Regions from separate parts of the Homo sapiens genome. Here region 1 is linked to region 2. Evidence: fine-mapped expression QTL. A gene starts in region 2. The other region holds a variant in brackets. All regions are shown on one strand. Distances are between the middles of the regions. Region 1 overlaps VRK2 (VRK serine/threonine kinase 2). Region 2 holds the start of VRK2 (VRK serine/threonine kinase 2).

Region 1 (8,310 bases), 110 kb after region 2:
TTGTATTTTTATTTCCATTCGGTTCAATGTATTTTTTAATTTTCCTGGGGTCTCTTTGACCCATTTAAAGGGGTCTTTAAATTTTAAAGCATTTGGAGATTTTCCTATTATTTCTTTCCTTCATCTTGATCTTGGTGTATTTTCTTCCCTTTTTTCCAGTTTAGGTAGAAGCTTAGGCTATTGATTTGAACCCACTATTTTTTCTAATGTAAGTATTCCATGCTATAAGTGTCCTGCTAAACCCTGTTTGTACTGCATCCTGTAAATATTTATACATTTCAATTTTGTTCACTTCAAAATATATTTCCCCTTGAGACTTTTAATACCTTATTTAGAAATGTGTTAATTCCCAAGTATCTGAAGATTTTTTTTTCAGTTATTGATTTCTAGTTTAATTATATTATGGTCTAACAATATAAATTTGTTAGGGTTTGTTTTATGGATAGGATATGACGGTCTGCCTGGTTGAATGTTCCAGTTGCAGTTGAAAAGAACATGTATTTTCCTGTTTGGGGGTGAAGTAGTCTATAAATATCAGCTAGATCCCATTATCTTGTGATGTTACTGATTTATTTTATATTCCTGCTGATTTTCACTCTAGTAGTTATATCAATTACTGAGAACAGAGCTTTCTAGTTAGGGAGATGTGCGATGCCAACTCTTTGCTGTTTAATGCACAGCAGGCACGGTCAAAAGGGCAAGTGCCTCTCCAGTTTCTGAGGCCAGAGTGGAGGGTTGCTGTTGCTCTGATGTTTGCTCAGTGCAAGGTGGAGAAGGTTGGTAGCTCTCTACTACGGTCTCTACAGTGTCTGGTGGGGAGGAAGACAGGTACCACATCTGCTTGTGTTAGTGCAGGGAGGAACAGGCTATATGGCTCTGCCTTACAGTTTTGGTAGTCTCCTGGTGGGAAGGAAGGGGGACCACCTCAGTAGTACAGGCTGGGAAAGGTTGTCAGAGCTCTATCTCACAATTTCCCTAACACCCAGTGGGATAGGGTATCACCTTGTTAGTGTGAGGACGGTCAACAGGGCTCTACCTGTCTCCACAGTGCTTGATGGGGGAAGGGTAGGTGTGCTCCCTGGTTAGTGTAGGGTGATGATACTCAACAGGACTGTACCCTCCCTCTTCACCCCACCCTTGCCACCTCCCCACCGCCCCCACCATCCCCCCCACCCCGCCGCCCCGTTTCCACAGCACCTGGAGAGAAGTAAGGTACAGCTTCTTTCATGGTGTTCACCTAGGGTTCAGCAGGTATAAAAAGATTCTGTCCTGTAGACCTGTCCTCCCCCAGGGCTATTGGTTACATAGAGCATGTTTTTCATGTTTGTTTTTTTTTTTTTCCAGTCTGTGCATATTGCTGTTTCCAGAACGCAGGCTCTTTTATGGCCCAGGCTGGGGTAATAGGAGGTACTAAAGTACATGGCGGGTGGAGACTCAAGGGAGGGTCATTTTTAGAATTTTCAGTGTTTTGATAGGTGCTTTTTGTCCACTCTTTAATTACCAGAATAAGGTGGGATGCTTACTCTTTCTTGTCTATAACTGGATGCCCCTCACTTTGATTTTGAAAGCTTCATTGAATATGGAATCTATTCTTTCAGAACTTTAAAAAGGATGTTTCCATCTTCATAGGTCTGTTTTTTTTTCTGCTAAGAAGTTAGCAGTTATTCTTATTGGCCCATTTATAATGTATTTCTTTCTGTGGCTTTCAAGATTTGCTTGTTATTTTTGGTTTTGTAAGGATGGCTGTCTTTTGTTTATTGTGCTTTGGGTTCGTAGAGCTGCTTTTATCTGTGGGTTGATATTTGTCTTCAAATTGGAAAGGTTTTGTATGATTTCATCAATTTGTTTCATGCCTTAATCTCTCTTATTTCTCTGAGTTCCAAATACATGCATGTTAGAATACTTTACCTTTTTCATAGGCAGCTAAATAACTATTTTTTTAAATCAGTCTTTTATGTTGCTGTACCTCAGGTTGGGTGGTGGTGTTTTTTTTGTTTTGTTTTGTTTTGTTTTGTTTTGTTTTTGCCTGACCTCTAGTTGATTGTCAAATCAGCTGTTAAACCTAGCCAATGAATTTTTCATGTTATACCCTGTATTTTTCAGTTCCACAAGTATATTTCTTTGTATGTTGAGATTCCACCTCCCCCATATCTGTTCATTAATTATGTTCAACTTTAATTCCTTGAACATATTTATGTAGATGTTTTATAGTCCTTGTTTGATAATTGTACCATCTGGATCAGCCCTGAATCTCTGTTAATTTTTTCTCCTGGTTATGGGTCACATTTCCTGCATCTCATTTGTAGTAGTTTTATTGTATACTGAACATTGTGGATGCTGTGGTCTTTAGACTCCAGATTTTATTGCATTCCTTTAAAGAGTTTTGAGGTTAGTTCTGGCAGACAGTTAACTTACTGGTGACTAAACCTGATCATTTTATAAGTTCTGTTCAGGCTTTTTTGGCCTAGTCTGCAGTAAATCTTAAATTGTGGCCTTTCTTAGGTCTGTGTTATTTTCCCTTCCTGAGCTTTGTTTTAGATCCCTAAGTTATTTCACATATTTTGACTAATTTTGTTTTCTATTATTTATTTATGGGTTTTCACAGCAGAAGGGGAAGTCTGGTATCAGATTTTCATGGCCAGAGTGGAAGTAGTGTTGCTATTTTTCATAGCTTCCCAGTCGATTCTGATGTGCATTCAAAGTTAATAACTATTCTAATGTAGGGTTTCTTGACAGCTGCACTGTTGACATTTGGGAGCTGAGCTGTTATTTGTTGTGGGGGTGCTGTCCTGTGATGTAGGATGTTTCGCATCATTCCTAGTACTTATCTACTAGGTGTCAATAGTATCTCCTCCTAGCTGTAACAACCCAAAATGTCTCCAGAAATTGCTAAATGTCCTCTGTGGGGCAGGATCAACCCAGGCTGAGAACCAATGCTCTATCACAGTAGATTATTGCATTGCCTTGAGCCCTTTGCTACTCAAAGTGGGGTGTGCAGACCAGCTGTATTGGCATCATCTGGAGCTTCTCAGAAATACAGAATCTCAGGTCATACTCCTAGACCTTTTGAATGAGATCTGCATTTTAACAAGTTATGATGATCTGTTTGCTTTCTAATACTCGAAGAATAATGCCGTAGAGCAGGGGTCAGCAAACCTTTTCTTAAAAGGCCAGAAAGAAAATATTTTCAGTTTACTTTCCATACAGTTTTTGTCAGAACTATTCAACAATGCCATTGTAGTGCAAAAGCCCACATAGACAATACATAAACAAATTGATGTGGCTCTGTTCCAATAAAACTTTATTCACAAAACAGGCAACTAGCCAAGCCAAATTTTGGCAACTCCTGTTATAGACTATCCTAATCAGACCCCCTCAGTGTACTGAAGACAACAGGTGGTTAAATTCTTTGATGAGTGCCTTGCCATATGATGTCATTTGCTGATGTTCAAGAGAGATTAAGTGTATAGATTACACAGTAGATGATTCTGGAAATTATAGTAGCTTGACTTCTATCCTTACCTAAGTGGAGATATCTCCCAGCCTTGCACATGTGAGCTATATGTAAATGCTGCTCTATGATTTGATAGCATAATTATTATTTGTATTATGCTTTATAGGCCTACTGGAATAATTATTCACTTATTTTGACTTTAGTTAATAAAGCTGACAAACTTATGAAAAACTGCATTAATGTGACTTCGTTAGCTCAGAAAGAGTAGTTTAAAATGAGTTATTTAACTCTAAAGTGAGTCATTTAACTCTCAAGTAATTTTTTTTCATAGGAAAGCTAGTAGTTTTTAAAACATCCTTTGTTTTATGTAGGACTCCTTTCTGACACTTCCAAAACTCTGTATCTAGAAAGGGGAGGGCTGTTTGTTTGAAGGGTGGCAGTTTAAAGGTTGAGAAGGTAGTAGCTATTCTGAGAATGATGGACAGTGAACAAGCTTAAAGTATTTTGCTTTGTTTTATAAATTTCTTCTCTTCTAAGTTAGTTACTTGATAAATGGTGCTGAGGGGGCATGCCAGATGTCACCAAAGCAAAGCAGAAAAACTCGACTTTCAGCCAGTTAAGTGGTGATCAGGAAACTGATTCCTGGGACTTTGGCCAACAGGAATGATGAAAACATAGAAGTAGCTCCCGAAACTTGCATAAGTAACCAGTTAATTTGTTTTATATTAATACCACTTAATTTGCTTTATATTAATATCTATTCGGTCTATACTGGTTCGTCTGTATAGCTTTCCAAGAGACATAACACTATAGCTACCCCTGAGGCAGTTTTCTTTGGCTGTGTACAGCCTCATCCTTTGCCCACTGTACAGTGGACACTTCTCAGTTGCCATGGAATCAGAAGGTAAAGAAAGAATCACATTAATGACCAAAATATTTCTAATTATGGCTATCTTACCCCCTTAAGATTAAGCCCAATTTTTTGGTTTTGCCAAGAAAATTCAGTTTTCATATTCTATCCTATTTATTTTTAGATTATAAATTACTTAAGAGATGGCCTACTGACGTGGTTTAAAAGAACCACTCAAATTATATCCAGATTTGCTTGTTGGATGTTTATAAACTCTTAAAAAGTGTAAATCTTTAAGATCTTTACCTAAAAATTACTTCTCAGGAAAAATAACACGCAAAAACTTGATCTTGTATAACATTTTATTTAGCATTCTTACACACTACACAAAATAAATACTTGGATAACTCACGTCTAACAAACTAAACTATATATGTATTTTTTCCATAGGAAAGCACAAGGAGAAGACAGAAATATCAAGAGTCTCAAGAACCTTTGAATGAAGTAAACAGTTTCCCACAAAAAATCAGCTATACACAATTCCCAAACTCATTTTATGAGCCTCATCAAGATTTTACCAGTCCAGATATATTCAAGAAGTCAAGATCTCCATCTTGGTATAAATACACTTCCACAGTCAGCACGGGGATCACAGACTTAGAAAGTTCAACTGGACTTTGGCCTACAATTTCCCAGTTTACTCTTAGTGAAGAGACAAACGCAGATGTTTATTATTATCGCATCATCATACCTGTCCTTTTGATGTTAGTATTTCTTGCTTTATTTTTTCTCTGAAGATGATACCAAAATTCCTTTTGATAATTTTTTAAGTTTCCAGCTCTTCACCGAAATGTTGTATTCTTATTTCAGTGTTTCCTTCCAGACATTTTTAAGGTAATTGGCTTTAAAAAGAGAACATATTTTAACAAAGTTTGTGGACACTCTAAAAAATAAAATTGCTTTGTA[C/T]TAGAAATAGTGTCATAGAATAGTGTCATAGTACAGTTTGGAAAACACTTCTGAAGTTTCAGATCACCTAGGAAATCTAGAAAAGGAGTTTAATGTTTTTGATCAGAGAATTTGAAAAATAGAAATACAGAGAATGAGTTTCAAAAGTTTTAGATAAACTGATATACTATATAGATCTATCTTCTAGAACATATTACTGAAAGCTAGGCACATTTTATGAGATGTGATTAACAATTTGCTTACCTTACTACAATATGGACATTCACCAAATATGATGTTAAAACTCTGTCTACTAGTTAGTAGTCCTCTCAGCCACTGCAAATTTTAAAAGATAAAGGAGAAGCGTCAGCATGATTACAAATTACAGATACTCCAAATGTCATTCCCTTTGTTTTTAAGTGCATTATGTTTTTATTCCAGAAGACTTAGCTTAATTTTGTTTTGCAAGAGTAAGGGATGTATTTCCTGAGCCAATAGCAGACTATTAAGATGTTGAGTAACAAGGGAAATCAACATGGAATTGAAGGCCTAAACCACTGGTTTATAACCAGATTATGGGCCCCTTTAAGAATCTGATAAGAATTACGCATTTTCTTTATCCCCAGAATAGACATACATAAAAATAATGCATACTAAGTTCCTGGCATTCATAGACTTTCCCTAAATCCATTAATCACAAATTAACAACTCCTGCTGTTAAAGATACTACAGGCTCTTGAAAATTTCCCTCTTAGTTCTGGTCTGAATCACTAACAGTGGGTTAATTTTCAACCCATTGATTATAAGCATGAGCCAGTGAATTTTTAAAAATTAAATGAATATTCATAATTACAAAAGAAATCACATGTTCCCTTAGAGTATTTCTGTAATTTGACCTGTATTTCTGTAATTTCATGATTTTATATAAGGTAAATAGATGCCTCTGCCTAAGTTCTCCATTGGCAAAGTACAGACGGCACCAACTGCTACCTCTAATCACAAAAGTAAAGATGTGATATTAAGGAAGACTGAAACCGAAGGCAACATACAATTGCAAGGTGTTCTGTATATAGTTACACACAGTTTATCATGTATCAACTAGGCCCTAAGGTGAAGCCAGGCACTAAAGACAGGAATGAAAGTAGACTTCACATACAGTAAGTAAAGTGGCATTGCCTGAGTGCTGTGAGACTCAGATCACAAAAGGCATTCTTCTCAACATGAAAAGTAGTAGTATTGGATATATTCTATTCTTAAATGCAGCCTGAAAAGTAATAGATACTACATAGTACTAATTTCATTTTCACTGTATTACTGCCACTTTCAACCACCTCCACCTCGGGTAAACCTATGAAGCTTACATTGTGGTAACAAGGAATTTATAGAAAGATTCCAATGTACCATCAATTTAATTTGTTATGTGTCAATAAGCTAGTCCATGAATATATTCTGGATAGATTTTCTCCCTTGGATACTTCAGAACATTTCTCCACTCATTAGTAACTGTGATGAAGAAATGAAGCACATAAGCATCTGGAATAAACTGGTAAAAGGAGTTAATGGCAAAAGAGAGGATCACTATTGACTCAACAGATTTTAGATTCTGTGTATTTCAAACAGGAATACTTCCTATGTTGTGTTAGCGGAAAAAAGTCTTGACAATATTTTTATTTTTTACCTCATATAAGCATATTTGATGGAAAGGTTGTCCACACTGAGAATTATCACACACTTGATCAGGAATGGTACCGTCAAGTTGATAAGCATAACAAATTCCACAATCCATAGTAAAATCCTTCAAAAGAAAAATATTTATAAAAAGCGTATGTGTCTCACTAACTTATTCGTTGTACATATTTGGGAGGGTATGTGTGATATTTTGATACATGTATACAGTGTTTAATGATGACATCAGGATAATTAAGATATTCATCACCTCAACATTTACCTTTTATGTTGGGAACATTACAATTCTTCTAACTACTTTAGAATACGAAATCATCTATGTGTTTAAAACACAAGGTAAGATCAGGAAGAATGTTTTATAAATATAGTTTTTATAAAGGTGACTATATTGCTGTATTATAGGAAATATAATTACATTACTATTTAACACCTAGCAAAGCTATTGTAGGGTGTTTCCTTTTCCACTCAAATATACACAGCTAGGCTAAAAAAAGAGATTCCATTTTTGGCTGGCAAGATGTTTGGGCATCAGTAATATTCCCATATCATACATTGTTATAATGTCCCTGATAGTATTTAAAGAAAGGAATTGATATTAGCTAGTGATTACTAAACAGCACAATTCTGTAACTAAAGGAAAAAGAAACTCACTACCATTTAGTAGTCTACAACCTTAGCAGCCTTGTCAAAAATCAATTCTATTATTTTTGCAGTATAGTGGTATCTATTCAATTTTGAGAAACTATAACTGCTTCACAAACACTTACATCAAGCTAATCAGTATTTGAGCCATCCATAAACAGACTATGTAGAAAAGCCAAACATCTCATTAGCTACTTTGGAGTTCTCCCCTTATTTTTAATAAATGTCTGTCATTAATGACGTCACTACTGAAGACCATGAAAAAAGTATATAGTTGACCCTTGAACAACATGGGTTTGAACTGCACAGGTCTACTTATACACAGATTTTTTTTTTAACCAAATGCAGATCAAAAATACAGTACTGACAAGATGCAGAACCTGTGTTTATGTGAAATCTCTGTATACAGAGGGCCGACTTCTTCTATATATGGGTCCTGCAGGGTAACTGTGGAACTTTAATGTCTGTGGATTTTTGTATCCATGGGCAGCCCTGAAATCAATCCCCCTGTTCCAAGAGACAGTTGTACTTAACAACCAATCAAAGGTAAACAAGTTTTTTGATGCAGATCAGAAGTCTGTGTTATAATATTTTTCTAATTCCCTCCTTTTTCAGCCTCATTTTTCACTGAGAGAAGCATTTAAACTTCATTATGCAATACTGTCTGGAATATCAAAACACTGATAAAACTTACAGATTTTTCCAGGATAGCACGAGCTGGAAAATCAATTTC
Region 2 (8,348 bases):
CAAACATTCTCTTGTGGAAAAAATCTACATTCTGTAGAGAATCCCCTTCCCTTTCCAAGTCTTTTTCCTGATCCAGAAGAGAATTAACTAAGAATCTGGCATCTTTTTAAGTCTGATAAGAAACATTTAAAGTCTATTCTCTCTGAAGCCTGCTACCTGGAGGCTCCATCAGTAAACTAATACCCTTGGTCTCCACAACCCCTTATCTTAACCCAGATATTCCTTTCTGCTGATTCCAGGTCTTTAGATAAACTCAGAAAATCTTTGAATCCACCTATGACCTGGAACTCCCCCCTCCTACCCCCCTTTCAAGCTGTCGGGCCTTTCCAGACTGAACCAATGTACATTTTACAAGTATCGATTGACGTCTTCTGTCTCCCTAAAACATACGAAACCAAACTGTAGCCCAACCATCCTGGGCACATGTTCTCAGGACCTCCTGAGGCTGTATCCCGGGCATGTCCTTAACCTTGGCAAAAGAAACTTCTAAATTGATTGAGACTTATCTCAGATACTTTTTGGTTTACATGACATATTGATATGACATTTTAAATTATTTTTAATATTCTAATTCTTCATTTATATAGACAATGAAGAATTATGTCATTTGGATGATTAAGTTTATACTTTGTAATGATCTTATATGTAAAGAATGCAGAGGACATAGATACTTGGTCTGATTGTTTATCTAATGGGCTTGGAATTCCATTTACCTGAATTCTATTATTTTCAAAATTATTAATTTCAAAATTTCTATGTCAGGAACTGCTTAGCTGTTTAGAGATTGTAAGTTTATGAGTGCAAATGGCCTCCTGATTTTTACAGAACAAAAATACTAGCTCTTCTTTGGCAGGCAAAACACGTTCACTGATATGATCTCCTTATCTCACTTTAAATAACAAAAATTGGCTTTTTCTGAATGTTTTGTCTATGCATCATCTTTAACATTTTAATTGATTTGAAATGATCTTGGCCTTGTAAAGTATGCTTACTAAATGGTTGGGTTTTTCTTTTTCTTTTTAACCAGTGTAAGCATTTTATAGCACCCAGTTCTTTGAAAAGCAGAACGCATGCCATACCTACAAGTTGGCATACAGCCAAGAAAGTCCTTTTGTGTGCGTGTATTTGTGGTGAATCATTCATAGCCTGTAAGATCTATCAAAATAGCTTTGTTTGAAAACCTAGTTTTCCCCATATTTTTTTTCTGATGACTCACACTTCACTGCTTTCATGTCTAGATTCTCTTTTCTTTCTTGTTTCTCATCATGTTCATTCAGAAGATGTTCTTTCACTAGTTCCAAAATTTGTATTTCTATATTCTGTCAGTTTTCATCTTGAAACATACACACAGCAATATGCTCTGAATCATAAAATTCTGCATTAAATCCCAACACTTAAAAAAAACACATATTCTCAATATAGGTTTACCTGCTCCTGTTGCCATTTTTATTTAGTACAAATTTATTAACATTTAAAAATCATTGGCACTTATGAAACTTGAAACTTTATTTTACTGTTAGGAAGATTTTGGCTGCAAGAAATATAAAAACCAATGCTAAGTGGTTTAAATCATAAGAACACTTAACACTTCATGGATGAATATGAAAATATGGTGGTTCAGGATTAGTTGAATTAGTAGTTCAATAATGGCCTCAAAGACTCAGGATCTTCCTATCTTTCTCTTTTGCCATTCTTTTAAATCGATTTTATTAAGGCATAATTTATATATAATTCAATTTTAAGTGTATAACTAGAGGAATTTTGACAAATGTATAATAATGTATCTATTACCACAGTAAAGAAATTTAACATTTGCAACGTTTCAGCTCCTTGCAGTCAATCCCAGCTCTTCGATTTCGAATAAATTATTATATTATATATACTCCTTTGTGTCTTCTTTTACATAGCATTGTGTTTTTGATATTCATCCAGCTTGTTGACTGTATTGGTGCTTTGCTCCTTTTTATTGCTGAGTGATAGTTCATTGTATAGTAGATATAGTATAATTTGCTTATTCATTCACCAGTTGATGGAAATTTATTTCCAGTTTTGGCTATCACATATGAAGCTGCTCTAAAGATTCCCCTACAAGTCTTTGTGTGGATACAGGTTTAGATTTATCTTGGGTAAATATGCGAATGCTGGGTTGTATGTTAATTATATGTTTGACACTATAAGAACCTGCCAAACTGTTTTCCAGAGTGGCTGTACCATCAACAGCAATATAAGAGAGTTCCAAGTTGTTCCAAATCCTTGGTAACTTATTAGTATTTTTTGAAAAGCAAAAGTTTTTCATTTTGATGAAGTTAAATTGTCAATTTCTTCTTTTAGGTTTCCAGCTTTTAAATTTTTTATACTTTATAAGTGCACACATTTAAAGATTATATAGAGTTTCTGCTAGGTTTTCTCTAAAAAGTTTGAGATTTAGATCTTGTATTTAGATTTAGCTGTATGATCAGTTTCAAGTAAATTTTTACATGGGGTGTGAATTAAGGGTTGAGGTTTCTTTCTTTCTTCTTTTTTTTGTATATATGGATGTCTAGCTGTTCTAACATTTGTTGAATATTCTGCCATTCCTGGGGCTTTAGATTAGTACTTTTTCCCATCTTTGTGGTCACACGATGACTGCAGCCATTTTAACCATCACATCAGAGACTATCTCTTCCAAGAATGTGTCCAGCAAACTTCTTTTCACCTCGTTACCTAGACTCAGCACATGCTTATTTTGTACTGTCTAAACCAATCATGGGAATTGGAATGGGGCCAGCATGGTTCATTTATTCATTGAAGAAGGAAATGGTTGCCCATATCCTTTCTAGGGGTTGGGGATACAGTAGTGACGAAAACAGGCAAAAATGTTGCCTGACCTCATGAAACATACAATTTACTGAAAAAGATTGTCTTTTGTCAAAATAAATAATAAACTGTATAATATATTGCTGTATAGCAGTAGGTACTGGGAAAAATACAGGGAAAGAGGCTACGAAATATTGTGGGTGAGCTGAAATTTCAGATAGGATGTTTAGGAAAGGTCTCACTGAACTGACTTTTAAATAAAGACCTGAAGGAAGTGATGGAGCAGTCTATACGGATACCAGGTTGGAGAGTGGTCCAGGTGGCAGTAAATGCGAAAAGTTCTTGAGAACAGCAGGCCACTGTGGTTGAAGAGAGTAATAGGACATTGGGGAGTGGGAGTGCATAATAGGTAGATCAGTGTTCTTTTCAACGACTGGCAATTTTGGCAAAATTTCGTCATGTTGGGGGATATTTTGGTTGTTAACTTGTGTGGGAGGGAGTGCTGAGGAGACCAGGGATACTGCTAAATATCCTACAATGCACAGGACAGCCTATCTCTCAATCCTCCTCCTTCTCCCAAACCCCCAACAAAGAATTATCCAGGCTGACTGTCAATAGTGCCCAGGTTGAGAAATGCTGTTTAAAGTCATAGCGAAGACTGGCTAATTGTGAGTAAATTGGAATAACACTGAATTGTTTTAAGCTCAGTAATTATTTAAGCGTTAAGGATCATGTGGCTGCTTGCTGTGAACAGACTAAAGGGATAAGAGGGTATAAAACATTTAGGAGGGTAATACAATTACCTAGAGAAAAAATATGGTTTGGGCCAGAATGCAGGTAAGGGTGCTAAGTGATAGATGCTGGATGTATTTTGAAGGTTGAGCCAACAGGATTTACTAACACTGGATACATGCCTGTAGGGAGAGGAACCACCTACAAGTAATCTGCTGTGGTTGCTACTGGAGTTGTTTCTTCTCAAAAGGGAGCCGGGGAAGTGGTGGAAAGCTAAACAAATTTGGAAAGGAGGAAAGAGTACCCAATATGGATATTAGGATTATTATGCATCTGTTACATAAATATCTGTAATTATGCATCTGTTATATAAATATCTTAAGAAAATAAGAAAGGACACTGTTGGACCAGTGAATGACTAAGGGCACAATTATTCTATGGACTGTTTCTTTAAAAATACTTTTTTGTTTGTTTTTAGAAACGTCTTCTCATGCCATCTTTCATTTTGGTGACAGTCTGAAAGATGTAGGGAGCCCCAATTCCTTATTCTATCAAAGTCATTAAAGGGCTCTAATTTTCCTTTCAGTATTTGTATCCCAACCAATTATTGGTGGTTACTATGTAGAATGCTGACGTATTAATAATCTTTGTCTAAGCATTTGTTTGGTTTAGTCTAAAATATAAGCTTACTATGAGTCTTTTTTTTCTTTCCTTCGAGACTGAGTTTCCCTCTTGCTGCCCAGGCTGGGGTGCAGTGGCGCGCTCTCTGCTCACTGCAATCTCTGCTTCCTGGGTTCAAGCGCTTCTCCTACCTCAGCCTGCCGAGTAGCTGGGATTACAGGCGTCCGCCACCACGCCTGGCTAATTTTTTGTATTTTTAGTAGAGATAGGGTTTCACCATGTTGGCCAGGCTGGTCTCAAACTCCTGACCTCAGATGATCCACCCGCCTCGGCCTCCCAACGTGCTGGGAGTACAGGCGTGAGCCACCGCACCTGGCCACTATGAGTCTTTATGTATTAGAAAACTGCTTAATAAAGTCCTCACCTTATTGTCATAATCTTATAACCAATAACCTTATAATCTAACAACAAGGGTTATTTCCATTTCACAGACAAAAAAACCTGAAGTTTGTTAATTACGGTGTTAAATTATCCTACGATTAATGGCAGAAATAGGTCCTGAACCAATATGCCTTTGAGAACTTAAACGCGGTGAGTTACATACAGGCCCTCCTAACTGGAGTCTTCGCTAGTACCAATAGTTAGTTGCTCGGCGAGAGCTCGGTAAGGACTAGCCATTTGGAAGCTCGTAGTACTCAGGTTGTGGTACAGGAGATCTAACACTCCTACACAAATGCATGTCGTGCTTATTTCGTACCAAACTGGTCTGGCGGCGGTTCTTCGTCCAGACGCTGGCGGGCCAGGGTGGAGGTAGTAACACAGCTCCCATTCCCCATGTAGCCGCGCCCTCTCCTTCCCCTGGGCGTCTCCGGGGCGTGGACAGGCCGCTGAAAGGAACCGGCTGCGGCCTGTGTGAGGCTCCGCGGGCCGCTGCACTGCGAGGCCGACGCAGCTGGAGAGAAGTTAGGCAGGTCCTAGGGAGGGCAGGCTCGAGTGCTGGGCCCGCCTCCCCGCGGGACTGTAGGCCCGGGGGCTCCGCCTCGTCGCAGCGGCAGGTAGGAGGCGGTGCGCGCGGCCCGGCGACGGGGGATCCTGAGGCCCGGTCAGTCTCTTGCTCTGGGGTCTTGGGTGGCGGGCGGCACCTCCGCTTGCAGTGCCGGAGCCGCGGCCCCGCTCGGAAAAGGGCTGCCGTCGGAGTTAGATGCCGGGGACTCCGGGCCGTCCCAGCCCCCGGGCCTCAGCTCCGGCCCGGGCAGAGTCGCTGCTTCCGCGTTTGGTTCTTTTTTCCCCGCTGGGAGTGAGAACAAGGCGTCCCCTTCTACTCACGTTTGCCAAAAGCGGGTCCGACGTGTTAGCGGAAAAGTGGGTGGAGTTTCTCTTTTTGCCGGTGCAGAGAGAACTTGTGGCGGGAAGTTGGGGCGCGGGGTTGGCCGTAGGTCCCCGGCGTGCTAAGGGCGGACGGACCAGGCGGCTGGGCCGCGCTGCTTCTCGTTACCTTCCGCAGGGTCAGGGGCCGCGGCGGGGTTGGAGGTCAGCCCAGGCACATGTTAACCCCTGGGTACCAGTTTGCTCGGAAACTCGTGTTGAGGACTCATCTTAGCCCTGGGAAGGTACCCAGAAGCCGAAGGGACACCCCTGACAGGGACGGGCCCTGAGAGGCTGTCGTTTCCCTTGGCAGATGAACTCGGGACTCGCCCCCAGGATGTACATTTCGTAGAGTCTCCCTTACCGCCTCAAGCCCTGAGGCCGCTGCCTTGCCCCAAAGTGTATTTATCTTTTTTATAATTATTTAGAATTTATTCCTTAATCAGTAGTTTACACTTTGGAGACTTTAAGTTTTAAATCAGTAAATCTGTAATAGGCACCAGCCTATATAATGTACTGGTCAAGGGAAACCTCCACAAAAACTTTTCCTGCTTTATGATACAATCAATGCTCTAGGCATAGTTCACCATCCAAATTCCCAGCCCTTGTGTGCCTATCAGGAGGAAGGTGAATATTGTTAAAGATACACGCAGCGACTCTACCTGGGACAATACTGCTAAGTAAAAAAGCAGTTAAGTGAAGGAGGAAAAACCCGTTAAAGGAAAAACAGATACTTTCTTTTATGGAAGCTAGGAAGATTATATTAAGAAAACTTTACATTTACGTATATACGTTTTTAATTAACTTTCATGTCAGAAACTCTTAATAGTTTTAAATACTTAGAGGATCATGGTTACCTTCACATTTAAATTATTTTCAGGCATGTATGCTGGCATATGTATTTTCCCCTAAGAAATTTTCTCTTTTAACTCAGAATTTCCCATTGAGAAATTTGCTAACCTATGTACAATTATAATTAGTTGATTAAAGTTGCATGGCTGTGCTGTGGAGATTATGCTTTTGTTGTTGGTGGCACAGTTGTAATCTCTAAGGCAGGACTGTTTTCACTGTGATAAACTGAGAAAGAGGGTAAGAAGACAAAATGCTGAGAATATTTTGGCAGCCCGAGAACTGATGGCCTAGTATTCTGCTAAGTTACATATCCGTGAAAATCCCTGGCTCATTTAACAAATGTTTACTGAGTACCTAGTATCACGGTGGTGAGATGTCCATTGCCATTGTCTGTGTCTTCCCAATCCAATCCTGTGTTCTTTTCTAGTGACTGAAGACCTTCTCACTTTTAACATTTTACATTCTCAGTGACAGCAATATTTCCATGTACATGAAATTTATTTTCTTTCTTCATTGGAAATTGTTAATTTCGTGTTTCTTAAGGTGTGTCCTGCACTGTTAATATGTGCTATAGAACCCCGAAATGAATTTTGGATGAAATTTGGTTAGTTTGCTTCTGTTTTTTTAAAATATCTATACCTCTTAGATCTCAGTATTGTAATGTATGTGAATTTCTAATTTGAATATAATGTGTGGGCTTTTCCAAACTGAATTAACTTTAGAATCCTAATTTCTGGGAACCTGGGAAAGTTCCCTATTGAAGACATTTTGGGAAGTGTATTTTAAGAGTTTTGTTTGTTTGTTTTTCTTTTTACCCATTTATCTCACCCCTTCTGCCAACAGAAGTGATGCCACCAAAAAGAAATGAAAAATACAAACTTCCTATTCCATTTCCAGAAGGCAAGGTTCTGGATGATATGGAAGGCAATCAGTGGGTACTGGGCAAGAAGATTGGCTCTGGAGGATTTGGATTGATATATTTAGGTAAAGTAAAACCTTAAATTAACAATTATTCTTATATCTGTGACTGTAACCGTGATTACTTAGTGGTATTTTAAGAATGGAAATATGGAATTCATATGTGTACTTTATTAAAATTCATGATTGTACTCGATTAAGTAATAATAGAGTACAGTGTCTAGGTTCAAGACATCACTGACCCACTCCTTGTTGTCCATGTTTTTCTGAGTAAATCTTAGAAGTCTTTTTAGAGCATAATTATACAATCTGCCAGACAAAATGCTAACTTTCTTTTTTTTTGAGAGCTTGTTTTCTTAGAAACATGCTTTTTTCAGATGAGAAACCACAACTGTATAGATAAAAACACTTTCTGTTTGTGAATCTTAATCAATATTTAGGCAATACAAGAGTCTAGTCATTTCTTAATTGGGCTCTACTGGAGAATTCATAGATAAAACTTAAGGCATCTATTCTGTGAAATGAATTAACTTCTCTCTCGTGCATCTAGAGTGGTCCCTAGGGATGTGCCATTCTTGGGATAATTGAAAAAATAAACACTCAAAATTATTTTCTGTGATCTGTGGTACAGGTAAGGAACCATGGGCTGGATAGGCCTTTACATTGCATTTAAGCATTTAAAAATTACACTGAACTTTAATGGATCATTGAGTTGGAATGAGGAGGGGATATCCATTAAAAGATTGATTAATAAAATAAGGAAAATAGTAGTGATTTTTAAAAATATACCCTCAAGGATAAATTCTCCTAAATGTACTCACTTGAGACTTGAGATCACATCTATTTCTATAGGAGATTAAGGAGTTGATAAAATACCTCCGTTGAGGGAATCTTGGGTTCTCATCACATATTTCCAGAAAAACATGCTTCATGGATCCTGAAATATAAAAGATCCTCTTCTGATAAAATTAAGATTGTAGTTTTGAATGAATGAATGAATGAAGTTTGGTCAATAAATATCTGCTTATTAAATACTTAAGTGTCTATTCTAGTTGGAAAGACAA

The links. PIP is the estimated chance that this variant, and not a neighbour inherited with it, causes the effect.
Region 1: its variant is fine-mapped to the expression of VRK2 in whole blood (TOPMed, PIP above 0.99).

What each region holds. Positions count from the first base shown.
Region 1 is chr2:58,154,595-58,162,904 of GRCh38, forward strand. VRK2 (VRK serine/threonine kinase 2) reads left to right here. Exons shown (of 13, transcript NM_006296.7): 13 at 4,755-5,277. The coding sequence ends at 5,099. It overlaps FANCL (FA complementation group L), which reads right to left. Exons shown (of 14, transcript NM_018062.4): 11 at 8,272-8,310; 12 at 6,928-7,044; 13 at 5,514-5,585; 14 at 4,653-5,206. The coding sequence ends at 5,171. Among named protein-coding and RNA genes, the nearest start is that of FANCL, 83 kb to the right of the region's middle. The variant C/T (reference allele first, on the strand shown) is at 5,271.
Region 2 is chr2:58,041,618-58,049,965 of GRCh38, forward strand. VRK2 (VRK serine/threonine kinase 2) reads left to right here and starts at 5,189. Exons shown (of 13, transcript NM_006296.7): 1 at 5,189-5,251; 2 at 7,210-7,350. The coding sequence starts at 7,215. LOC107984043 (formin-2-like) reads right to left here and starts at 5,616. Exons shown (of 3, transcript NR_171623.1): 1 at 4,907-5,616. RefSeq lists enhancers at 4,457-5,012, 4,902-5,021, 5,013-5,568 and a silencer at 5,172-5,441.